Regions from separate parts of the Homo sapiens genome. Here region 2 is linked to region 1. Evidence: fine-mapped expression QTL. Tissue or cell type: sun-exposed skin. Region 1 holds a variant in brackets; the other region holds the start of a gene. All regions are shown on one strand. Distances are from middle to middle.

What was found. PIP is the estimated chance that this variant, and not a neighbour inherited with it, causes the effect.
Region 2: it holds the start of DENND4B, and the variant in region 1 is fine-mapped to the expression of DENND4B in sun-exposed skin (GTEx, PIP above 0.99).

What each region holds. Positions count from the first base shown.
Region 1 is chr1:153,850,272-153,852,771 of GRCh38, forward strand. The region is part of intron 1 of GATAD2B (GATA zinc finger domain containing 2B); the gene reads right to left. It also overlaps the pseudogene LOC645965. Among named protein-coding and RNA genes, the nearest start is that of GATAD2B, 71 kb to the right of the region's middle. The variant C/A (reference allele first, on the strand shown) is at 981.
Region 2 is chr1:153,945,461-153,948,132 of GRCh38, forward strand. It overlaps DENND4B (DENN domain containing 4B), which reads right to left and starts at 1,258. Exons shown (of 28, transcript NM_014856.3): 1 at 841-1,258. CRTC2 (CREB regulated transcription coactivator 2) reads right to left here. Exons shown (of 14, transcript NM_181715.3): 14 at 2,215-2,672. The coding sequence ends at 2,649. RefSeq lists enhancers at 448-948, 1,760-1,829 and a silencer at 470-1,369.

The sequences.
Region 1 (2,500 bases):
TTTAAACCCACACAAATAAGCCCATACTTAATTATTTTTCCTTTTTAGGACAGAGTCTCACTCTGTTGCCCAGGCTGCAATGCAGTGGCACAAACTTGGCTCACTGCAGCCTTCACCTCCCGGGTTCAAGTGATCCTCCTGCCTCAGCCTCCTGAGTAGCTGGGATTACAGGCATCCGCCACCATACCCAGCTAATTTTTGTATTTTCAGTAGAGACCAGGTATCACTATGTTGGCGAGGGTGGTCTCGAACTCCTGACCTCAAGTGATCCGCCCACATCAGCCTCCCAAAATGCTGGGATTACAGGTGTGAGCCACTGCGCTCAGCCTAATAAGCCCATACTTAATTTTTAAAAAATTGTTTGTTGGCCAGGTGCGGTGGCTCACACCTGTAATCCCAGCACTTTGGGAGGCCTACGCAGGCGGATTGCTTGAGGTGAAGGAGTTTGAGACCAGCCTGGCCAACATAGTGAAACTTCGTCTCTACTAAATAAACAAAAATTAGCCAGGCGTGGTGGTGTGCGCCTATAATCTCAGCTACTCAGGAGGCTGCGGCAGGAGAATCGCTTGAACCTAGGAGGCGGAGGTTGCAGTGAGCCGGGAACGCGCCACTACACTACAGCCTGGGTGACAGAGCAAGACTCCACCTCAAAAAAAAAAAAGTTTTTTTTTGTTTTATTGTGGTAAAAACACTTAACACAAGATCTACCCTCTTAACAAATTTTCAAGTGTACAATACATTAATGTTGACTATAGGTACAGTGTTGTATGGCAGATCTCTAGAGCTTTTTCCCGTTTGACATTAATTTTACATACATTGTTTAGCAACTCCCCAATTTCTCCTCCCCCTCAGCCTTTGGCAACCACCATTTGACTCTGTCAACCTATGAATCTGACTAGATACCTCACATAAGTAGACTCACATAGTTATTTATCTTTCTGTGACTGTATTATTTCCCTTAGCATAATGTCCTCAAGCTT[C/A]ATCCATGTTGTCACTCTTTGGGATCCTGATTTTATTTTGGATAAATATCTAGAAGCATGATTGCTAGACCATCTGGTAGTTCTATATTTAATATGTCAAGGAACCTCCATACTGTTTTCCATAGTGGCCGCTTGTACCATTTTGCATTCCCACCAACAGTGTGCAAGGGTTCCAATTTCTTCACTCCCTTGCCACTTAAAAAAAATAGCCATCTTGACATTGACAGGTGTGAAGTGATGATATTTCATTGTGGTTTTGATGTGTACTTCTCTGATGATTAGCAATGTTGAGCAATTTTTCATATACTTGGCCACTTTTATGTCTTCTTTGGAGAATGTCTATTCAGGTCCTTTGTCCATTTTTTTTTTAATCTTACAGTGAATTATATTGAATTCAAAGGTAGTATTCCTATTTGAGAAATAAAAAACTAAAATCAAGTTGTACAAGCAATCATCATGAGATAAATCAGTAAAGAGGCCTGCTCAGATCATACCAGAGCAGACACCAGTTTCTACCCCAGCCCGCATGAAGATGTTTTTATTCAACACAAACAGTAACAGAGGGTAACACAATGGCCACAGAATGAGAACATAAGTGCACTTGAATTTTTTGTGAGTTCTGGCTAGGCTCTAACAAGCCTAGCATTCTTTTCTTACCAGGTGAACAGAAATCATCTGCTAAAGCCAGAAACTTTAAAGCTCTTAATCCAGCTGGAAATAACTATAATTGAGGGCCTTTTTACTAGCTACTTGCTTCCCAATTTAGGGTTGCCTAGCAGGGTTAATTTCAACATAACGAAAGGTGTTAACTGGCTGGCCGCATCATTCACTGGTGACAGGGGCAAGTTTAATGAGTTTTGTGCTCAGATCGCTGGGCCTCCTGGCTGCTCTTGTCCATCTCTGCACTTTGGTCCTAAGCATTCTGAGACTCAGTCAGTTGAGGGTGAAAGGGACCTACCAGCCAGTTGAGGGGCATGTTGTTAACAAGAAATCCATCAAGTCATCTAAAGATTCCTTCATTTTCTGCAGCTGCCCCTTGCTAGAAGTGGAGGCTGTCAGACACTTCCTCAAAGGAGGCAGCATTGCAGAACACTGAGTAGATGTCGCCTGCCATCACCCTCATATGCTTGGCCTGACCTTGGATGTTCTGTGGTCATCATGGATGTTGGACAGAAGGCCGTGGCATGTGGTCTGGAGCTGCTAAGTCAGGTTGCAGGCAATAGCAAGAGTACGTGACTCGATGTGCTCTGCACAGTGGGACTCATCAGTATCATCGTATCCAATATTCCTTTTCCACTCCACCCATGAGAGCTAGAGCTTATCCTGAGCATCCTGAATTTTCTGATTGGCACTATGCACACTCTTCCTGGCAAATTCAATCAAGTGAACAGAAGAACGGAGCTGAGAAATGGTCTCTTGGCTTTTTTGCTTAGCTTCTTTAACCCTGCTGAGAGCCTGCTCATACGAAGTGAAGCTTGGTAGACAGGGAGTGAAGCTTGGTAGACAGGGATCCCAGTCTA
Region 2 (2,672 bases), 95 kb after region 1:
GCAGTCCTGCTAACCTCCTGCTGTTCCCCCAGAGAACAGGGAATAAGGAATCTCATAGAGCCAGGCTGGCTTTCTTCATCACCTGGCCTCTGGACACACACACACACACACACACGCACACACACACGCACACACGTACACACACCAACCCCAGCTAAATTTAGACTCCACTTCTGGGAGGTAAAGCCAGGAGTCAGCGTCAGCCTCTTGATTTAATTCTGGGGCACAGACCTGTCCCTCATCCACTGAGGGCGAATGGGAGCCCTATGCCCAAGGCAGCAGGCAGAGGCCATTAGGTGGGACCTTCTGAGGGGCAAGTGGGTGGCACCCATCCGCAGGACCTGCGCACCGGGGCCTCCCCTCACCAAGCCAGGGAAGAGTCCTGCAGAAAGCAGCCCTTTCTCCCTAGGGAAGACAACGGGCACAGGGCCCACTCCGGGTCCCCACGCCCGCGTGCCGGGTGACGGGAAGTTCGGGTTGGGGCAGAGGGCGCGCCGAGGGGGAGGAGGCTGAGGAAGGAGCAGGAGGGCAGAGAAGCAGGCGCGCCGGCGGCCGAGGACGTGACGGCAGCAGCGCCGGCCGCCGCGTGACCCAAGCGGGAGGGAGGGCGGCTCCGACTCCGGCACCCACGGGAGCAGAAGGGGGTGCAGGAGGCCGGGCACGGCGAGCTAATTGCGGGAGGTGCCCTCCCCTCCACTTTCACTTCCCCAGGAGAGAGGAACCGGAACCAGATGTGCAGTGAGGGACAGCAGCTGGGGGCCATCCCCCACCCCGCCTGCCGCCCGCGCTCCCTCCTGCCCGTCCCCGCCTGCCGCCCAGCCCGGTCCAGCCCCTACCTGCCTGTCCCGCGCTTCCCGGCCGGCCGGCCCGCTGGCGGGTGGCTCGGAGGGCGAGCTGGCGGGCCGGCGGGCGGCGGGGCTACCCGGCCCCAGACATGGCGCACCCGACTTGGGCGCCGCTCCCGCCCGGGCAGTGAGTGAAGGAAGAAGAGGCGGCCGAGGACCGCAGAGCGCGGGGCGCAGTGGAAGGAGATCCGGGCGGTCCCCGCGTCCCCGCCGCGCTGCGCCACGCGGGGACTGTGCTGCCGCGCTGCTCGCTCGGCCGGCTCGGTCCTCCCAGCTCCCGCGGCGCCGGGGACCCAGCGTTCCTCCGCGCGCCCCGCTTTCTCTACTCCCCCAACCCCCGCTCCGGGCCGCGGGCGCCGCCGCTACCCCCACCCCTCCTCCTCGGCCGGCGGCCGTGACCCTGGCAAGCGTCTGCCCAAAGCCCAGCCGCCTGCAGCCCGACCCCTGGCGGCTGGGAGGGCCCCCTGCACCCAGGTAGCTTCCCACCATCCAGCCCGTGCCTCAGGACACTGACCCCAGGCGACCCAGAGGGCCGCGGCGCGCTCCCTTCCCGCCTGGGTCCTGCAGTCAGATGTGGCAAGCATGATGTGGGCGCAGGTGAAGTCCCGAAGGTCTAGTCTACGGGGACCCAGGTGGCTCCCCCTACTTCCAGGTTTAGGGCACAGGGCATTCCCTTTGGACCAGAACCAGAAGCTCTCAGTTCTCTTTTTTGAAAATGACAAGAGCTTTGGAAAGAGGAAGAGAGGCCAGGACTGCAGGGTGTGGAATAGAGCAGTGGAGGTGGGGGTAAGGTAACTGCGGGGCTCTACTTTTCTCACTATGCGGGTTGGGGGAGTGAGGGGTGCAGAGGCCCACACGGCTGGTCCAAGGGCTGGCAACCCAATCCAGAAAGAGAAAACCTTCAGAACATGCATGGCACTGAAGGATCTGTTTAATTAAAACTAAAATGAATGAGTGGTGAAGAGTGGAGAGGGTGAAGTGAATGCATGCATAGTGAGGGAGTGAGGATGAAGGCTTGCTTCCCTGAGACCTAGGAGCACTTCAGACCTGTGGGCTCAGCCAGCAATCACCTCCTTACCCGACTCACTGCCAGACCTAGGGTTGAGGAAGAGGAATAACTTGTCTGATCAGTCAAAGCCCCCATCTGATGCTGCAGCAGGGCCCTGGACAGACAGGAGGGCACATGAAGTGATTTCCTGCTGCCGTGGAAGCCTACATCCAGCTGGGTACAAATTCCGAGGCTGTGGGGCCCTTCCACAAAGCACAGTGGTGCTAAGAAGATGCAAAAAGCCTAATAGATAAAAAGACCCATGGCCCTATAACTCCCTAGATCCCCAGCCATGCCCCAAATAACTAACCACACCAAGGGTTTGATATGATTTTTTTATTAACATATAATAATATATTTAATAAAAAATAGTATCCACTCTGGCTCTCTCCTCCACTGCAAGGGGAAGAGTGGTGAGGAGGGGCTGGCACTGCCCACCCCTAGGCATCCGGAAAAGCCCTGCTTCCAGGGCTCCCCTCTACCCCTGCTTTCCAACAGGCTCTGACCTCCAGACAGACGGTTCAAAGTTACAAGTGCTTTAGGCCCTCCCTTGAGTTCCCCCAGGCCCATCCCTTGCGCAGAATTCAGGGGCCACCTGGACAAACCCCTTGCTTTTTCTCATTCTTGGCATCCTTCATTCATGCTAGAAAGAGGATCTGGGGACAGAGAGTAGAGTCTCTACCTGCCAGGGGGAAGGGAGGAAAGGAATGGTGGTGGGGGATGGGGCCAAGAAGAGGGATGGTGATGAGGTGCCCTCATTGGAGCCGGTCACTGCGGAA